Linked DNA regions of Homo sapiens. The protein of the gene in region 3 interacts with the protein of the main gene of each other region in a pairwise test. Each region holds a gene or a part of one and is shown on either strand. Other genes may lie near its edges. The genes, in order: SLC44A3, UBA3 and IMPA2.

Region 1 (7,110 bases), on a different chromosome or scaffold from region 3:
AGCATGGTGACTATAGTTCATAATACTGTATTGTATATTTGAAATTTGATACAACAGATCTTCAGTTTTCTCAAAATATGATAACTATGGGAATTTATGGATACATTCATTAGCTTAACTGTAGCAATCATTTCATGAAGTTTATATATATCAAAATATCACATTGTATACCTTAAATATGTGCAATTTTTATTTTTAAAAATGTTGCTCCCCAAGTTTAGGTTTTTGGTTTCTGTGGGTTCCCATAATCAACTTCCTATTCAGAACATCAGCTAATCGATGTAGCAGAGCATACTTGCCTGGCTTTCTAAGGTGTGCTCTGCAAATGGCATGCTAGACGCCTCTCTATTACTGTAGTTCTTAAGCTTTTTTGGTTATTGAGAATGTTAAATAAACATCTTTTAAAGATAAATGTTAAATAAACATTTTTGCCATCTTTTTTTCTCTATTTTTAGCAAGTCATTTCCCTTATTTAACCGATGTGTCCCTCAAACACCTGAGTGCTACTCCCTATTTGCATCTGTTTTGATAAATGATGTTGACACCCTCCACCGAATTCTAAGTGGAATCATGTCGGGAAGAGATACAATCCTTGGCCTGTGTATCCTCGCATTAGGTAATTCTCAGTTAAGTTAATTTTAATAGTTGTTTATGGAATGCCAAAGTTCCTAGCATTTTATATGTTGTACAATGAAAATTAGCCTCTTGTTTTAAATATAAAACTCTGTATTTTTAATAGATATTTTCAGTGTTTCAGATTTAAGTGGGATGGGGGCAATACGAATAGAGGAGCGGCTGGCCCTCTGGCAGAAAGCCTCAGTGGGTAGGGTTGCCTTGATATACTGACTATGTTCTAGTGTCTGCTCCTCACTGGGGATGGGTATATAAAGCAGATTGCCAATTTGTGGATGGGACATGAAAAATACAACTGTCAGGGTGACCAGAAACCATGTCTTCTGGCCAAACATGCCTCCACCTGTAGGTGGATCAGAAAGCAGATCAGAAAGCTGCTTGGTGAGCAGGGCAAGGACATGTATGCATCCATGTTAAATGGAGTCAGACTGCAAGGGCCTGCTGTATCCTGCTCCTCTAAGGGACATACCTGCTTTGGGTTGTAGACAGGTCAAGGCCTTCAGCCTTCTCTGGGCATTTCTGGAAGCAGCTACCCACTCTTGATCTTTTGAGTTCCCATTTTCTATGTTTCAGTTGGCTGAAATCAAGAGCCAACTTTCTCTTTGAACAGGTGAATACACTCTGCCCCTTTAGACAGTGGTAAGAGCCTATTGTCTCCTCGCTTTCCAGTGGCAGCCCACAAACCTCTTGGTAGAGAGAAACTCTTTGGTCAGACATTAACATATTTCTAACAGTTAACAAATTGAGTTTTCCACAATTTCATTACTAAAAGGTTCCTAATTCCTGAATGCTTGGGGATATTTAACTAGTCACTATTATGACTTTCAGACTTCTTACTTAGGCTGAAAATGACTTCAATTGACTCAAACAAGATGCTTTGACTCCCAAATACTGGCTTGGTTACAATATATAACAAAAAAACCTCAGGTTATTCCTGATATCTTATATAATGACCTAATGTCCCTGCAAGGACATTGTCATGTGCTTATTAGATTCATAATGGTATTAACAGCTGTCGTTTACTGAGCACTTACCATGTGCCAGGCATTGTACTTATTCTTCACTCATTAAAACCTCATCAGAATCCCAGTACCACTCATAGGAGATGAAACTGAGGCTTAGAGAGGTTTAGGACTTGGCCAGTGTTGCACACCTAGGAGAAGAGGTGGCAGAACTAAGACTCAAACCCAGATCTGTGTGGTCCCAAAACCCACCTTACTAAACATAACTCTGATCTAGATGCAATCCTGATTTCCTATGTCGAAAATAGTACATACAGCTTATTTCATGGTTAGGATCTTAAATTCTTCATTTTAAAGACATTATTAATCTTTCATATTTAATAAGAGTACCTTAGAACATGTAAAGTTAGAACTTTACATAAGCCCAGTATGAAGTCAAAAGATTTAAGTATGATAATTTTAGATGGTTCATTTGGACTTGTAAGAAAAAAAGATTTGGGCATTTGAGAATAATATTGCTATAAAATTTTTTTTCTTTCTTTCTTTTTTTTTATTGAGACAGAGTCTTGCTCTGTTGCCCAGGCTGGAGTACAGTGCCATGATCTTGGCTCACTGCCAACCTCTGCCACCCGGGTTCAAGCGATTCTTGTACCTCAGCCTCCCGAGTAGCTGGGATTACAGGTGCCCGCCACCATGCCTGGCTAATTTTTGTATTTTTAGTAGAGATGGGGTTTTGCCAGGTTGGCCAGGCTGTTCTCGAACTCCTGACCTCAGGTGATCCACCCGCCTCGGCCTCCCAAAGTGCTGGGATTATAGGTGTGAGGCACCATGCCCGGCCAAATTTTTTTTATTTTTGAGAAGAATACTAGGACTTTCAGAGACAGGCTTACCACACTTGATTGAATGGTGCATCAGAGACTGCCCCACGTATACCTTGTTATTTTTATTTAGTGTTTAGTAGATATCCCAAGATATTTAGAGATTGAATACAATCCTCAGCCGTCACTGTTCTGGAGGGTTTTGTCATCGCAGTACTACCATCATCTCCCCTATCCTTTGTTGCTATTGAGGTTTATGTGTTTTGCTTAATTTTTCAGCCTTGTCTTTGGCCATGATGTTTACCTTCAGATTCATCACCACCCTTCTGGTTCACATTTTCATTTCATTGGTTATTTTGGGATTGTTGTGTAAGTATTTCTCTACTTGACTGATTTCTTTTCGATTAAATGAAAAGCCTTTACATTAAGTACAGAACTTAAAAGTTGGCATTTTTAAGCTACATGGAGTCTTAAAGAGTATCTAGCCCTGTCACTTTACAAATGAGAAAACTTGGCCTCAGGGAGGACGATGGGAGTTGCTATGTCTCACAGACAGTGCAAAGTTAATGACCAATCTTTTTTTTCTTCTTTCTTTTCTTTTCTTTTTCTTTTTCCTTTTTTTTTTTTTTTTTTTTTTTTGAGGCAGGCTCTCACTTTGTTGCCCAGGCTGGAGTGCAATGGCGCGAACGCAGCTCACTATAGCCTCAACCTCCTGGGCTCAAGCGATCCCCCTGTCTCAGCCCCCCAGGTAGCTGGAATTACAGGCACATGCCACTACACCCAGCTAATTTTTGTATTTTTTGTAGAGACGGGGTTTTGCCATGTTGCCCAGTCTGGTCTCCAACTCCTGAGCTCAAGCGATCCGCCCACCTTGGCCTCCCAAAGTGCTGGGATTACAGGTATGAGTCACCACGTCCAGCCATATCTGTAGTTTCTTCTGCTGTGCTATGCTGCCCCTGAGATGAGCTTTCCAATACCGTGATCCTGTATCCATAACGTTAAAAGAGAATCCCAGTACCCACTGGGAGCATTTTAAAGGATTTCTTCTGAATGCGCACCTCACCCATTGGCACGTGGGTGCCCACAGTTGTCATGTAAAGGTTCTGACCAGCCAGAAGACACACAGGCCTGCATGGAAGCAGAGTCCTGGAGACCCTGTACTGTGCCCATATTTCCCTCCCGGTTGCTGGATTGTGGATCTCACCAGCAGTTGTTGGGAAAGAGGTCCGAGGGACAAGGGCACGCAGGAGGCTCAAGGCAGCAGCCATTTACCAACTGGTGTGGGGTACAATCAGGTGTCACTTAATGACAGGAAGGGATGTGTTCTGAGAAATGCATCACTCAGCAATTTCCTCATTGTGTGAACATCACAGGGTGCACTTACACAAACCTAGATGGTAGAGCCTACTACACACCCAGGCACATGGTATAACCTATTACTCCTAGGCTACGAACCTGCACAGCATGCTACTGTACAGAATACGGTTGGCAGCTGTAACAGAATGGTCAGTATTTGTGTATCTAAACACATCTAAGCACAGAAAAGTACAGTATTATTAATCTCATGAACCACCATCATATATGCAGTCCATTGTTGATCAAAATGTCATCATGCAGTGGATGACTATATTTTAATTTTTAAAAACTGATGTGATTGTCATGTTTCTTTCCCCTGAGTCATCAGCTCTGCCCTCAGCAACTTAGAGCCCTGTAGCCCTGTGTCGGAGGACAGGCACAATGACTTCTGAGGGTTGTTTCTTCCTGTCCACTCCAACCTTCCTATAGTTACTGTGGATATGGCATAAGGTGGTATTTCGTACCTAAATGTGGAGTACTTGCAATGTCAGGGCATCTTCCAAATGAGCTTCTGACTTCCATGATTCCCACAGGCCGTGTAAATTTTCCTGGTTTTGTGGGTGAGCAGCCAATATCCAGGCTCCACAGGAGTTATCACCACCAGAGCTTGCTTAAAACATTTAGACAGTGAGCTCTGGCATTGTCCCTCTCACCATCCTGTCCATGGGGTTTTCCTCCTGCTCGCATCCAGACCCAACCTGTGGGTTAGGTGCCTGTGTTCTGGGGTCACCATCCTGGGTCTCCCAAAACAAGCATCATCCCAGAACTTGTGGGTCCTCTATGGGTTGCCCTGGCTCTGCCCAGCTTCTCCAGAGGGCAGCAGTTGCTTGTAGGGTCCGGGTATTTGGGACCCACTGCCAGAGCAGTGCCACGCGGCCGGTGGGCAGTGGCTGGACTTCCTGTGTGATTCTGTGTGCTGGGGAAAGGTTACCTCATGGCGTGTGCCCTGAGCTCTGCTACTGTTCTCTTTTCTAGTTGTCTGCGGTGTTTTATGGTGGCTGTATTATGACTATACCAACGACCTCAGCATAGAATTGGACACAGAAAGGGAAAATATGAAGTGCGTGCTGGGGTTTGCTATCGTATCCACAGGCATCACGGTAAGAAATGCTCTTCTAGCAGTAGGTCAGGTAGCCAGCCAGGACTCTGAAATCCAAATCATTGAATTCTAGCCAAAAACAACTATAATTTGTTTTTCTTTTGATTTAGAATGTGCCTTCTTTGGATTTGAGATACCTGTATAGGGATAATTCAAAACTCTTCAAAAATAAGAAAAAAAGGTTTTAGTTCTTCCCAAGTCATTTCTGCCACCTCCCAGAGACTACTGTGTTATCCTTGCTGTTGCACTGTTCTCAGCCCCAAGGGGCTACAAGGTGGGCATGGTGGGTGGGCGGAGGCAGGCTTACGGCAGTTCCCATTCCCTGTTTGTGAGGTGCGGCTCCCCTTTGCCAGTGTATGCTCAGCTTCCGCTGCCCTCTAGCACACAGAGCCCTTTGTTTCCAAACCCGCTGGCCACTGGGTTATTTTGGTGTTCAGAGAACTTGCTGCCTCCTCAGTGAACTCTCTAGCTGAAAACAGGCTGACTTAGAATATTGAGGGAGCAGGTATTAGTTACTGGTGGTGGGTGGTTGGCAACCAAATGTCATTCAGGACCCTCTCCAGGGGCCGTTAGGAAGGCTCAAATCACAAGGCCCTGGGGCGGACCCCACACTGGCTTCAGGTCCCCCAGAGTCGTCGTTGCTGGTGTGTTGCTTACTGACTGTTCTGTGGAGCAGCTGCAGCCAGGGGTTTCCACAAGCCCATTGAATCTTGCAGCAAATGCAGATTCTCACACCAACAAAATTCTCTCATAGGAAATCCTTCTATTCTCATATTTGGTAGTTTTCACATTTTCTCCTTTCCACGGTGAGGTTTTGGGTTTGTGATCTTCACATAAAATGTGCCAGGGAGTAAGGGTACAATAAAGTAAAGCACCTGGTTGCTCTCGCCTCAGGCAGGGACCAGACCAGACACTCAACAGAGTCTGCAGAGGAGGCTGGAGATGAAAGGGCTTCCCCATTCCCCAGGCTGGGCATAGGGGAAGAGGAGCAGGGCTGGGGGCTGGGGAGGGTCCAGTTCCTCCGTCTACCCTCCACAGGGCTCCCTTTTTGTTTGTACACTGCACCATTTATGCCACCCAGATTTCAGGGCCGGGGCAAGGTTAGGGAGAGGGGAGGCCATGTGAGCAGGGAGGCTGTTTTCACCTGGGTCCATGAGTTCTGCACAGGGGCTACTCTATAAGGCAGAATTGAGTCCCAGCTCACCTCCCGTTCATTTGTTGTGAGTTCTTACCAATTCCCGGTTGCTAGATGAGCTAGTTCACTCATCCTCAGAAAAGCCCAGATGGAAGTTCCTCCTCAGCCTTTACAACTGAAGGGTCTCCTCTGGGTGTCTTGCGGGGCCTCTCCTGACACCTCTCCCTGCATGGTCAGGAGGCTGTGCTCCCAGATCCTGGAGCAGCTTCTGCAGTTTATCCACTGTCACTGTCTTTCCTCCACTTGACTGTTGACGGCAGAAACGCTCCAGCAAAGCTGGAAGAGAAAGAGCATCTCAGGCCAAGGGCACAGCATGCATGAGGTCACATGGGCAGGGGTGTGACTTGCAGGAAGTTCCCTTGATGGAAGCCTGAGATGCAGGTGCAGGGAGGGTCATGTCACAAAGGTCCTGATCTGCAATGATGATAGGTTTGATCTTTCTCCAGAGGCACTGGGGTGCCGTAGATGGATTTTGAGCCGAGAAACACCATCTTTGTGTTTGCGCTTTACAAAGGTCCCCTTAGCTGTGGAGTGGAGGAGGGACTGAGGTGGGGCGGGGTGGGGGGGGTGGTCAGGGAGGTTAAATGCAGAAAGCTAATGAGGTTATTGGGGTCTAGAAGAAAGAGGCTGAGACTTGAGCTGTGGCATCAGCGGTGGAAACAGAGAGGAAAGGAAGGCATGAGCGGTATTGAGGAAACTGAACCAGAGGTGATTGAGACTGTACTGGGCACTTTGCCAGTCCTTGACCATAAGAATGGCCCTGCTCTCTAGGAGCCTAATCTAATGGGAAATTCAGACGAGAAAACATTTATAGAATATGTTAAATAGTACAATAGGGTAAGTGTGGAATAAAATGGGAGCACACAAGAGGGGAACCTAACTTACTCTTGGAAAGTCTAGAAAAATTAGGGCCACTGGAGGTAAAGAATACAGGGGGAAGAGGAGGTTCTAGTATGAAGATAATGAATTTGATTCAGGATAAATTGAGTCTGACATACTGTAGGACATCCACGGCCTTGTCAATAACTGATGTGCTTATTCTTCCAG
Region 2 (7,110 bases), on a different chromosome or scaffold from region 3:
CTCTGATTTTTCAAAAATATATCAATTCTAATTTTGGGGATGTGAAGCACAGCAGCAAGAACTTCAGAGAACTATAACAATACTAAAGTCTTTACCAGCATGCCATTTATCCATCTTCTGGCGATGATAGAGTCCAGTCCACATACAATAATATGAAATTCTACAAAAAAAAAAAAAAGCAACTTTAGTTTTTAAATATGTAGTTGCATGATGATCTTTCAATGTAGATTCATCAACTGCAACAAATGTACCACTCTGGTGCAAGATGTTGATTAGGAAGGTAGTGTGTTTGTGGGAACAGGAAGCTCTATGAGAACCCAAGTTTTCAAAAATTTTCTGTTCAATTTTGTTGTGAACATAAAACTGCCCTAAAAAATAAAGTTTACTAATTAAAAAAAAAAAGCACTTGCAGAAAACAATTTGCACGTTCTAAGAAACCAACAAAAAAACCACAAGCACTTTTTACTGTAATCCCACATACGTTCTCAGAGCTCCAATTCCTTGAGTGAACTCTCATTCAGGTAAGCATAGAAACTTGTAGCTGGTCATGTCAGCTAAAACTAGCATTCTCTTTTCAGTCTATCAGCAACATTACTGAAAAGCCAACAGTGAGAGAGGAAAGCAAGTGAAGAAATAGCCTTGAAATAGCTAGCAATATTTGAATAGCTACCAACTAAAAAATTCTAAGAATCTAGTGAGCATTAATTTCAAGTAAAAAACTTACGTCGATAGAAAGTGTCGTTAAAATCTTGAATCTTGTTGAAATGTCTGAATACAAGTAAAGGAACTTAAGCAGCTAAGTTTTAATTTCTAAAATGAATTTGACAATGCCATAAGGAACACACTCTGCATATATTTACAACAAGAAATAAGTAATCAATGTTCACATCAGTGGAATTCAAGGAATCTGACTAAATGAACACAACTCTCCTTTCTGACAAAACTTTTCTGCCATTCCTCCCCTAACTACTTACTTTTTCTCATTCCTGAACCCCTATATCATTATATTTATGCCCTTGGTAGGAGGTATACTTTCTACTTTGCTTTGGTTTTTATATAAAACCATAAGCCCCAGGAAAGCAGAATGTGTGTCCTCAATCATCAGCATCAAGAAGAGATGCAATAAATGTTTTAGTGAAGGAAAGATGCACATTATAGTTCCTATTTTGCTAGGTGATTTTAAGAGTTACTGCAAAGCTCATTTTTTTAACATACAGAAAATTTCAACAGCTTTTTCAGTTGGTAAAGATTTTACTGTTTTTATTTTTTGTGGGGAGGAGAAAAAGTACGAATTTTTTCTACCTTTCTCATTTAACTCAGTTTTCAAGTTACCCTACCAAATCCTATTACCAGTCTTCCCATCCCTGGAGGCTAAAAAGGAAACTCCATTCAAAACTGATTGTGGGTGAGTCAATATAGCACTTAATGTTTTAATAGCACATGTGTGCAAAAACTTGTTTTAATTTTTCTAATGAATGGAGCAATTGTTTAATAATTTATAAATTATGCAACTTCTCTAAAGTTAAGATAAATAGTCCACTATAAATTTTTTAAAAGCAATACAGAGAAAAAAGGGACAATACATAGAAAAAAGGGACAATACATGCTTCCTCTAGATTTTTAATTCTTGCCTACAAATAAAGCTATGAACAATAATTTCAATTCTAGCCCTCAGTCATTCAGACCTCTATTCCCTTTGAATGCTAGGCAAGCAGGAGAACGAAGCTACAGCTAGAAAGAGGTCAAAAAAGAAACAAAGCAAACAGTGGAGGAATGGCAATCAGGGAACCAAGAGCCAGACTAAGAAATCTAATCTGGATTTCTAGAAAATACCCAAAGTTTCCCAGACCCACATAATGGGGATAGACAAACTGAGTGCCCCCCACTAACCAACCCACCCCCACCAACTCTTCCTTTTTCCCTACAGGGGCCTGTATTTGCATTTTTAAGCTCTTTATTTTGAAATAATATAGATTCGCAGTAAGTTGCACAGATAGTATAGGTAGGTACCATGCACCTTTCCCAGTTACATCTTACTATAGTACAGTACCAAAACCATGAACAGAACATTGGTACAATGTGTGTTTATAATTCTGTCATTTAAACACACATAGATTTGTGTAACCACCACCCCAGGCAACACACATAACTATTCGACCACAATAAAGATCTCTCTGCAGCCTCCACATCCTGGGCTTAACTGATCTTCCTGCCTCAGCCTCCCACATAGCTGGGACTACAGGCATGTGCCACCATGCCCGGGTAATTTTTCTAGTTTTTACAGAAATAGGGTCTCATTTGTTGCCTAGGCTGTTCTCAAACAACCAGGCTCAAGTGATCTTCCCGCCTCAGCCTCCCAAAGTGCTGGAATTACAGGCCTGAACCACCACACCCAGCCATCTCTATAATTCTGTAATTTCAAGAGTATTATATAAACAGAATCATGCAGTATATGACCTTTTGAGACTGGCTTTTTTTTTTTAGTCTAATAGTTGTGTAACAGTATCGCTCATGGTGGTCTTAGTTTGATGTGAAACATCTTTTCATGTGCTTTTCGTCATCCTTTTTAGTAAAATATCTCTTCCTATCTTTTGTCTATTTTCTAATTGAATTTTTTTTTGTTTTACTGTTGAGTTTTTAGAGTTCATTATATACTCTAGATATGAGTCCTCCATCAGATGCTTTACAAGTATTTTCTCCAGTCTGTGGCTTTTCTTCATCCGTTTAAGAGGGTCTTTCACACAGCAAGTTTTTAATTTTGATGAAGTTCAGTGTATCAATTTTTTCCTTTTATGGCTCATGCTTTTACAAAAAATTATTTTAATTTTTTAGAGATGATGTCTCACTACATTGCCCAGGCTGGAATGCAGTGGCTATTCACAGTATGACCACAGCCTACTATAGCTTCAAACTCCTAGTCTCAAGCAATCCTCCCACCTTAGCCTCCCAAGCAGCCAGGACTCTGTAGTGGTATGATAAAAGCTCACTGCTTCCTCAGTGATCTGCACCACCATACCCCACCTTTTACAGGTCTTGCTTTTGACGTGGCCTAAGCACTCTCCACCAAACCCTAAAGTTCTATCGTTTTATGGTTTTTTGTGTTTTTTTTTGTTTTTTTGAGATGGAGCCTTGCTCTGTCGCCCAGGCTGGGGTGCAGTAGCGCAATTTCAGCTCACTGCAACCTCAGCCTCCTAGGGTCAAGCGATTCTCCCACCTCAGCCTCCTGAGTAGCTGGGAGCCACTGTGCCCGGCTAATTTTTGTATTCTTAGTAGAGACGGGGTTTCACCATGTTGGCCAGGCTGGTCTCGAACTCCTGACCTCAAGTGATCCACCCACCTCGGCCTCCCAAAGTGCTGGGATTACAGGCATGAGCCACCACGCCTGGCTCATTTTATATTTTATATTTACACCTATAATCCATTTTGAGTTAATTTTGTATGTTTAGGTCAAAATTCATCTTTTAACTATGGATATGAAATTGCTCCAGTACGATTTGTTGAAGACTATGCTTCTTCCATTGGAACTGTTTTGCACCTTTATCAAAAACAAATTGGCCATACTTATATGGGGCTATTTCTGGCTTCCCTATTCTGTTCTAGTCATCTATATATCCCTCTGGTAACGCCACTGAGTCTGGATTACTATAGCTATATAAGTCTAGAATTTGGATAGTGATTCCTCCCACTTTCTTTTTCAGATTTGTAGTAGGTATTCCTTTGCTTTTCTATATAAAATTTTAGAAGATCGTCTATATCGACAATTTTGCTGGGATTTTAATAGAAACTATGGTATATATGTATACAAATTTAGGGAGAAATGACATCTTTACTATATTTAATCTTCCAATCTTTGAAGATGGACTATCTCTCCATTTATTTAGATTTTCTTTGGTTTCTTTCATCAGCATTTTGTAGTTTTTCACTATATAAATCTCTTACTTATCTTGTAGTTTACATCTAAGTATTTATTTTTCTTTCTAAGCAGTTGTAAATGGCATTGTATTTTACATTAACTTTCACAAGTTCACCGGTATGTTGATTTTGTATTCTGTGGGACTTTCTACATAGAAATCACATCTTCTGACTTTCTATAAAATGCCAAAAGTTCTCCAGATCTAAATTCAAACTACAGTGTAAATACTCCTTTTTAAAAACATATTTCTTGTAAAAATAAATTTACTGTGATGTACCTTCCATTTGGCTAATACTATATTGACTGTCTACTCTGTCTGCTACTATAAAGAAACAAAGATTAATTGGATCCAGCCTAGGAATTTACACTCTAGTAAAGGAGATATGTAATTGATACTGAAATTAAGGGCAATAATGCAAAATAAAGTAGATGATGAAACAGGCTTTATAAACTTAAGTTAAAAATCAGGGCCCAAAAAATATTTATATAACCATACAGAAAAGACTGGAAGAATAGATAGCAAAATGTTACCAGCAGTTATCTCAGTAATAAAGTTACTACTGCTGACTTTTTTTCCCTCTTGCTTATCTGTATTCTCTGTTAAATATCTCTTATAATAAAGGAAAAAAGCTTTTAAAAATTAAGTAATTTTCTTTTTGTCAAAAGGATACGGAACTACATTGCAATTAGGAACTCTGTCATTTAGAAATTCTGCAGCAACTTCAGCCTTAGGTCTTCCAATATCTTTAGGCCTACAGGAAAAATATTTAAATTATAATTCATATTATAAATCTATATGATCTACATAACTTATTTTCAAACATAAAAGTAAATTCACAGTAAGTTTACTTATAGGAAATTTAGAAGGAATATTTTTGCCTAAGTATTTTGATTTCAGTAATAACTTTTGGTAAACGGTCATTTAACCTTAAATGTCAACCCTTGCTAATGGTCCAAATTAACATAAGTCTAATTAAGTATTGCTTTAATTAAGAGAAAATCTGAACAGTGTTCTTCCTCCCAGATAAAGCATAATAATGCTATGATTCCTGGCCACTTTCCACTGTAAAAAATTATCCCACTCTTAGAGCTCAGAACCTTATGGTGTTACTCCACAGGTCTTGGCTGAAATATACACAATAAGATTCATCCTTGGGATGCAAGAACCTTCATTTAACCCCTTCTTCCTGTGTGTGCTGATTAAGCAGCAAATTTTGTGTCCCCTAAGAAGCTGCATGAAAAAGAAAAAAAAAGAAAAAAAAAATTTCACTGGACCGTATATAAAATGGAAAAAAAAAAAAAAAAGAGGCTGTAACCACGTTTTTTTCTTTTTTCTTTTTGAGACGGAGTCTCACTCACTCTGTCACCCAGGCTGGAGTGCAGTGGTGCGATCTCGGCTCACTGCAACCTCCGCCTCCCAGGTTCAAGCAATTCTCATGCCTCAGTCTCTAGGGAGGTGAGATTACAGGTGCCTGCCACCACAACCAGCTAGTTTTTGTATTTTTAGTTTTGCCATGTTGGTCAGGCTGGTCTCGAACTCCTGACCTCAGGTGATCTGCCCGCCTCAGCCTCCCAAAATGCTGGGATTACAGGCATGAGCCACCATGCCCGGCACCAAGTTTTTAAAGAAAGAATAATACCAAAAGTGTCAGCTAAAATTGCAAATGTTACTATTACATCACAGAAGCTGAATATATAAGGCCTCAAAAGGTCACTCTTAAAACAATAACCACACATATAGATAGGAAAGGATATGAATTTCCTCCTCTAAGTTCTATACAAATGGTATTTTCTTTCCTAATATTTCCATATTCTCCTCAGAGAAATCACTCCATGTATATAATAAGAACATTATTACTTTTTTCGTAACATATTTGCTACATACACGTCTATCATACCCACTAGACTATTATTTGGATGAAAGTGACCATGTTCTTACTCTCTTCATATTCCTTCCTACCTAGCACACAGTAAATACTTTTAAAATAAATGAAAATAATAAATCGTGTGCTTATTAGAAAAAAATCTGAAATTTCAAAGAAAAACACTTTAGCATGTCAATTTTTCTTTTCTTTTTTTTTGTTTGTTTGAGACAGAGTCTCGCTCTGTCACCCACGCTGGAGTGCAGTGGCACAATCTCGGCTCACTATAACCTCTGCCTCCCAGATTCAAACAATTCTCCTGTCTCAGCCTCCAGAGTGCTGGGACTACGGGCATGAGTCACTACGCCTGGCTAATTTTTGTATTTTTAGTAGACACAGGGTTTCACCGTGTTGGCCGGGCTGGTCTCGAACTTCTGACCTCAAGTGATCCGCCCACCTTAGCCTCCCAATGTGCTGTGATTACAGGCATGAGCCACCATGCCAGGCCAATTTTTTTTCTCTCCAATAAAGCACTGTTCTTTTTTGATTCAAAACTTTTGGTAAATGTTTTATCTTCACTTTGTACTAACTTACATAAAAAAGGCCCTGTTATAAATCAAAGAACTTAATTTCAGTATTGCATTCAATGGCTCCACACACAGAAAGCTCTTTTGGTTTGTAAAAGGGATAAAGTAGACTTCTAAGATTATTTTAAGTAATATATTCTATGTGCTTTTATGGCACGGCCCAAACAAAAGAACTCCTAGATGGTTTCTGGGAACTGTTTGTTAATTTACCATTCCAGGATGAAACAATCAGATTGCTCCACCTCAATAAAATGGCCTTTCACACACATCATCCTTGCAGGACACTCTGCCCAAATTATTTAACCTTGAACACAAGAACCTACCCTGAGGTTGCTGAGATTAAATGGAATAATATGGATAGTTTAGAAGTACTTGCTACATATCGTTATTACCATCTTCAACCATTTTAGCCACAAATTAAAGGGTATGGCCTGTATCAATAACAAATCAATTCAGTGGTATCTTTTTCAGAGAATTCACAACTCAAAATTTGACAAGCTGGACAGAGCCCACAAACTTTGCTATAGAGAAGGGAAATTTCAAAGGTTAAAAAATAAACAAAAAATAAAGCTTAAAAGTTAAACATTAAGGGTCACACTGCAATTACAACACTTCATTAACTTATTTTAATCCATACTTCAGTCCCATTAAGATCTTCCACAAAGATAATGTAGAGGTTTTATGCCTATCCAAAAACTTAATGTTACCTTTTTTGCTAGCTCAACTTTATCCTATATACCCAGAACAA
Region 3 (7,110 bases):
CCTGTTTCTCTGAAGAACCTGATACGTGTGACAATCAATAAAACCTAACAGTTCATCGGGTACCCAGGTAATAACACGCCTATCACATGGTGTCATGTGGCACATGTGGTCAGCAGTTCACAGCTGTTGATGCGTCACAAATCTCTGTACAACCTCAACCCTGGGAGGAAGAGGAGGAGCTGGTCCAAGCAGACGTGGCTCCCAGGCCAGCCCACCTCAGGCTCTCGAATCCTCAACGCCTCCTTTAGTCTCGTGGCTATTTTTCCCCTCACCTTGATCTCTAGTCGCCCTCCGCCCTGACAAGGCACTGGCACCTTCCATACCAATGCCAGCAGCCACCCGTCACCCACATCCCAGCTGCATTCCCTGTGTTCCAGGGCCCGTGGCCTGTGGCCCCTGCCTCCCCTCGTGGCTTTCCTCCTATCTCCCCACCATTCTGCGGCTCATCTCCCTCCCACTATTCCTTGAAAGTGGGTGTTTGCAAGCCCTCGGACCTGCCTTCAGCAGCTGAGCTTCCTGGAGATGGCCTCCACCTCACACCCTGCCCAGCTCCACGGCCTGAGCTCAAGCTTACAGAGCGCTTCTTCTGCCCCGTGCTGTTCTGAGCAGTTCACATGTACATTTATTCCACACAGTAACTCTGAGGACAGCAAAAATTATTCTCCACGTTAAAGATGAGGAAACGGAGGCAAAAAGAAATGGAGAAAGTTGCCCAAGGCCCTGCAGCTGTAAGGTATAGGGAAGGGGTTCCCAGCACCACAGTCCAAGTCCACCATCGCTAAACAGAGCCGACCCCACGGCTGGAGCCGTCACAATTGATTACTTCCTAATCCCTCTCCAGCTCACATTTCTCTCAAAAGCAATGAGAGCCAGCCAGCTGCATGAGCCAGAAACCCAGAAGTCCTTTATTCCTATGTCTCCTTCAATGTACGACTCATCAAGTCCACCCCAACTCACAGCCCCCAAGGGCCACACCCCATCAGTTCGAGCAGGACACCCACCTGCAATTCTGCCCTCCACACGGGGCCCCCAAGTCCTGACCTCTCCCACCTCAAACTTTAGCCAAAGTGCATTTCTTGGAGGTCCTTGGTGCTATGTTCTCTTTTGCCCCTTCTGCTTTCATCTTCTCTATTGGCCCCGACCCCTCCTCTTCTCTCTCCCCTCCCCAAGCCCATCACCTAACCTTCCTAGCTGACTCCTGCTTTTTTTCTAAAGACACACTCAGCTGTGACTTCTTCCAGGAAGCTGTCCACATCCCAGGTGCTGGGATGGCCTCCCAGTCCGCCTGCACACTGCAGTGACTGGCCAGGTCTGCACCTCCTCCATCTCTCACATGAAAGGTGAGCCCAGGGGCAGGGCGCCAGCCTGCAGAAGGCCTCCTGCAGCGCTCATGGCAGGCTAGGGCAGAGCTGGGACAACGGACACAGGATCCTGAGACTGGCTCAGCCTAGAGACCAAAGCCTTCCCTCACTCCCACAGAAGAGAGAAGACGCAAACCAGGCTCCAGGCTCCTGTCTCCACTGGGCCCAGGAGGAGGCCAGGAGAGAGGGAGGGGCCTAGACTCCGGAACTCCCCTCTCCTTCTCAATGTCTCAGCTCCCCATGCCTTTGAGCTCCTGCCTTCCTCCACCCCTAAAGCTCGAGGAGGGGGCCTGTATCTCACTAGCAGCCTCTCCATCCTCTGGCTGAGTGATTTCACCCACCCTCCTGCCCCAAACTCCAAAGACAGTAATCTCCCCTGGGCAGCGCTTCATTGGGGTGAGCAAGTGACAAGCTCAGGGCCACAGAGTCCAGGACTCACTCTCCCCGTGGGGATGAGCCATCTACCAGCCTCTCCTTAAGGGGGCACAGGTGGGACCTCACTGGCACCCTGGAGTGCCAAGGGCTGGGATGAGGCTGCCCAGAGGCAAGGGCAGTGCCTTCTGCCCTCCCCCTTCTTCTGAGACAGCTTTTGTTAGCAAAATGGGTAGGAAATGATAGGGACCTCTCAGATAGGGTCAGGAGCAGTGGGCCTCGGACCCTTGGAGACCATGTACCGACCCCCACCCCACCAAAGGGACAGCTGCTACTCTGTGCCTGCCAGCTGCTGTCTCACAGGAATTCTGTCTCTGCTGATGTTTGAAATGTTGTTGAGTTTTCGAATTTCTCACGTAGGCTGACCCCACCCTGCAGAGCTAAGCAAACACTGCAGGTGTGGACCAGGCGAGGCAGGAGCTGGAGGCCATCACCACCGCCTCCTCTCCCCCTCCTGCCTCCTCTTCCTCCAGCGACAGGTGCGCTCAGCCCAGGCAGGAAGAGCAGGGAAGCCTTTTCTGGAGAAATGAACCACTTCAGAAATGACCTCCACAAACTGGCATTTGTGAGGCTCCCAAGGAGGAAAATGGGAGCCTGACCTGAGCTCATCCGACGGCAAAGCCCATCAGTGGCCAAGCCTGCTCTCCTCCTGTCCGGGACATGGCCCTAAATACCATCTCCAGGAATATGACTTCCACACTGCATCTCTGCCGTCAGCTTGGGTGCAAATCCAACATCTCCACTTAGTGAAACCCCGTCTGTACAAAAAATTAAAAAATACATATTATCCAGGCATGGTGACACATGCCTGTAGTCCCAGCTACTCAGGAGGCTGAGGTGGGAGAATCACTTGAGCCCAGGAGGTAGAAGCTGTGATTGCACCACTGCACTCCAGCCAGGGAAACAAAGCGATACCCTGTCTCAAAAAAATAAAATAAGAAATCTACTGGCAATTCGAGCTTAACCTGCACAGAAGAGAACACTCGACTCTCAGCTCCAAACCTGTTCCTCCTGCAGTTTTGCCATCTCGGAAAGTGGCAAATCCATTCAACCAGCTTTTCAGGCCTAAACCCCTGAAGTCACCCTTGGCTCCTCTCTTTCTCTCACACCCCACATCCAACTCAGAGGCTGTCATCTCAGCCTCCAAAGTAAATCTTCTTCACCACCTTCTTCATGCACCCCAGTCAAATCCACCCTCATTTCTCACGTGGCTTCCTATCAGATACCTGATTCTGGTCTCCCTAGTGTCCCACAAAGGACCTCATGCAGCAGCCAGGGTGGTCCCCTATATAGAGTCCTATAAAGCCCCACACAAGACTCTGCCCCAAACCTCCCCTCACATTCAGAGTAAAAAGGCTAAAGTCCTTTCCTGAGTTGTTAATGATTCTTTGTTGGATGAATAAATTTATAATCAATGTGTTATTACCATCATTTTAAAAGCAAATAATATCAAAGAAGCCAATAAACAGCTGGGCACAGTGGCTCACGCCTGTAATCCCAGCACTTTGGGAGGCCAAGGTGGGTGGATCACATGAGGTCAGGAGTTTGAGACTGGCCTGGCCAACATGGTGAAACCCCATCTCTACTAAAAATACAAAAATTAGCCAGGCGTGGTGGCACATGCCTGTAATCCCAGCTACTCGGGAGGCTGAGGCAGGAGAATTGCTTGAGCCCGGGAAGCGGAGGTTGCAGTGAGCTGAGATCGCACCACTGCACTCCAGCCTGGGCGACAGAGCAAGACTGTGTCTCAAAAAAAAAAAAAAAAAAAAAAGCCAATAAACATGTGCATTTAACTTCATTAATTATCTAAGAAACGCAAATTAAAACTACAATAAAATACCAACTCAAGCCCATCAGAATGGCTACAATATAAAAGACAGACCATACCACATGTTGTGGAAGACGTGGGGAAAAGGGAACCCTCACACACTGCAGGGTGGAGTGTAACTTGGTACATCCTCTTTAGAGAACTACTTGGCAGAATTTACATTCCCAATGACACAGCGATTCTACTCCTACTATTAATAAATCCCCAACAGAAATGCACACATAATCAAAAGACATGTGCAAGAAAGTTCACAGCAACGTTACCCGTATTAACTTCAAACTGGACATTATCCAGTTTGCTCAAGAGTTGAATGAGGCCAGGCGCAGTGGCTCGTGCCTGTAATCCCAGCACTTTGGGAGGCCAAGGCGGGTGGACCACTTGAGGTCAGGAGTTCTAGATCAGCCTGGCCAATATGGTGAAACGCCGTCTCTACTAAAAATACAAAAATTAGCCAGGCATGGTGGCGCATGCCTGTAGACCCAGCTGTTCAGGAGGCTGAGGCAGGAGAATCACTTGAACTCGGGAGGCAGAGGTTTTGATGAGCCAAGATCACGCCACTGCACTCCAGCCTGAGCGAGAGAGCTAGACGTCGTCTCAAAAAATAAAAATAAATAATAAATAAAACAGTTGAATGAATAGTGATGTACTCACATAATAAAATACCATGCAGCGGAAGTTCCCATTGTGCCACTCCAGACTAGCAGCATCTATGTCAGCTGGGAATGTTAGAAATGCGTATTCTGGTGCCCACTCCAGACCTAGTGAATGAGAAACCCTGCGGTGGGACCCCATTTGCCTTAATAAGCCCTCTTGGGCTTCCAACACAGCCAAAGCTGGAGAAGCACTGCTCCACAGCAGCGACCCAAGGAGTGTGACCACACCAAGGAGATCATGAAAAATCCTGCTGGGAAGATGGATGGCTCACAATAGGTATACAGAAAACTAGACAAATGCAAAGCAAAACAAAACAAAACATTCTTTAACGAAAATACAAGTTGCATTAGAAAGAAAGGAATACACTGCCGGGCTGAACCATGAGTTACATCTGCATGGCCATCCGAACATGGACATGGACACCCACAGAACCACACGGGCAGGGCCACTACACGGCGTAACACAGAATAATTCTGTCAACAATGAACAACTCAAGAAAGCACGACAGAAGCATATTACTTAGAAATGGGTGTAACTCTCAGAAAATTGAGAACAGGGACTCCGGACACAGGACAAGGGGTGAGGAGTGTGGGCCAGGTGCTGCTGTTCTTCATCATGTGCTTTCAGTGTTACGTCACTCATTAAATTCCCGGTGTGAATAACCAGCAAAAAGGAAAATCACAAATCAAAACAATACTGTGTTGGTAAAGCCAGATGGACAAGTGGGGACACGGGTCCAGAGCCCACCAATGTGCCTTCTGCCCTGAAGAGCCAGAGGTAGACAAAAGAGTATTCATATTCCAAGGACCCACTGTGTGGAGGGCACACCACCAGGCAAGGATAAATAAAGTCATGAGGAGTGCCAGCTCAGCAGGACCAGGTGGGGCACTGGAAAGACAGGGAAGGCCACCTGAGAAGCGGTCCATGAAGGAAGGGGCTCAGGAGCCGGGCTCTGGAGACAGGCAATGGTTTGCATACTCCATAGGCCAGAAGAAAGGCAAGAAAATACAACATGTGTTTTGCAAACACCAAGCAGAGCGACCAGATCTGGCCGGACAAGGGGACGACAGGCTCACTTCGCAAGGCCGGGCCTCGGGAAGCATAACCTGCAAGGGTGTGCAAGGCCAACTAGAGAAGGGGGAAGTCTGCGGTCCTGAGGTCAGTGCTGGGTTTTTCTTTTTCTGCTTTGTCCTGAGATTTTGTTACAAGTAAACAGAGATGAATTTCCTGTGAAGCTAATGACGCTTAAGCATCAAGGCCCCCACTTGCCTGCAAGGGACCCTAACAAAGTGTTCACAAAGCCGTACACAAACCCCTTTTGTAATGGGCAAAAGTCAGCTGTTTTGACTGTAGATCTAACCTTGTGCCTTTCCACTTAAACTGTCCTTCCATCAGACTTTGCATCAGGTGGCACTGGCGTGGATACAGCCAGTGTGGGCTAAAGATAAGCTGAGTAGATGAACTAACTTTGCTTCAATAGGGTTTGCAGTCACATTTCTCTGTAAGTTACTGAGAGCCATCCAGTGTAGAAAGGGCTTCCAGGCATACTCCCCTGTCCATCACGCCGACCCACCTGGCATGGTGACAAAAACATACAGGACCAGAGGAGCACATGAGGTGGACACAGACACTGGCACTGAAAATGTGTGGATCACAAAAATAAACCAGATTTCAACTGCACAGAGCCAGGAGCAAGTCTGTGAAAAACAGACTCACTTACAACTAATGTATAAAAAAATTCATAGAAGGTTCTCAATTTGATGACATCCTAAAAATTTATAAGCCAATTGTTACCAGTAACAAGTTTGAAGCCTAAATTTTCTAAATTATCAGTAATAAATTTCAATAAGCCAAGCAACAGGAAATGCTGAATTTATCTTTCTATTCTCCCCATATAAAGTATTACAAAATCATTATCATTCAAAAGATGCAAACAGTATGAAACCAGAAAAAGGGCAAAAAGTATTACGGAAGTATGAGAAGCAGTGAAAGAATTGTTATTTTTGTGTATTTCGTGATATTTGCAGTATTTCTTAGCACCTTAGAAATTTATAGATGTGATTGTTCTTATTCTAAATAACTTTTATATCTAAGTTTGAATTTGTAATTTTGTATTTTCTCTTTTTTTTTTTTTTTTTTTTTTGAGACAGAGTTTCGCTCTTATCACCCAGGCTGGAGTGCAGTGGTGCAACCTAGGCTCACCACTGCATCCTCCACATCCCAGGTTCTAGGGATTCTCCTGCCTCAGCCTCCTTAGTAGCAGGGATTACAGGCGTGTGCCACCACGCTCGACTGATTTTTGTTGTTTTTTTTTTTTTTTTTTGAGACGGAGTCTTGCTCTGTCGCTCAGGCTGGAGTGCAGTGGCACGATCTCTACTCACTGCAAACTCCGCCTCCCGGGTTCACGCCATTCTCCTGCCTCAGCCTCCTGAGTAGCTGGGACTACAGGCGCCCGCCACCACGCCCGGCTAATTTTTTGTATTTTTTAGTAGAGACGAGGTTTCACCGTGTTAGCCAGGATGGTCTTGATCTCCTGACCTTGTGATCTGCCCACCTCGGCCTCCCAAAGTGCTGGGATTACAGGCGTGAGCCACCGCGCCCGGCCACAGTTTTTGTATTTTTAGTAGAGATGGGGTTTCACTATATTGGTCTCAAATTCCCGACCTCAGGTGATCCACAAGCCTCAGCCTCCCAAAGTGCTGGGATTACAGGCTTCAGCCACCACATCTGGCAAAGTTTGTATTTTCTTAAAGAGGGCCCCCTAAATTGTCTAAGTTTCTGGCCCAACAGAAGCTGGTTCAGCTCCGCGGGGGGATTTGAAAGGCAGAGCTGTCT

The links.
Region 1: the proteins of IMPA2 (region 3) and SLC44A3 interact in binary tests that used the Homo sapiens proteins (3 or more experiments, as listed by UniProt).
Region 2: the proteins of IMPA2 (region 3) and UBA3 interact in binary tests that used the Homo sapiens proteins (3 or more experiments, as listed by UniProt).

The regions. Positions count from the first base shown.
Region 1 is NC_000001.11:94,837,256-94,844,365, forward strand, and holds part of SLC44A3 (choline transporter-like protein 3), read left to right. Parts: intron 1-455; coding exon 456-616; intron 617-2,692; coding exon 2,693-2,782; intron 2,783-4,744; coding exon 4,745-4,869; intron 4,870-7,110.
Region 2 is NC_000003.12:69,063,344-69,070,453, forward strand, and holds part of UBA3 (NEDD8-activating enzyme E1 catalytic subunit), read right to left. Parts: intron 4,666-7,110; coding exon 4,585-4,665; intron 769-4,584; coding exon 725-768; intron 161-724; coding exon 96-160; intron 1-95. UniProt on the Homo sapiens protein: Catalytic subunit of the dimeric UBA3-NAE1 E1 enzyme. E1 activates NEDD8 by first adenylating its C-terminal glycine residue with ATP, thereafter linking this residue to the side chain of the catalytic cysteine, yielding a NEDD8-UBA3 thioester and free AMP.
Region 3 is NC_000018.10:11,984,456-11,991,565, reverse strand, and holds part of IMPA2 (inositol monophosphatase 2), read right to left. Parts: intron 1-7,110. UniProt on the Homo sapiens protein: Phosphatase that can use myo-inositol monophosphates, myo-inositol 1,4-diphosphate, scyllo-inositol-1,4-diphosphate, glucose-1-phosphate, beta-glycerophosphate and 2'-AMP as substrates in vitro.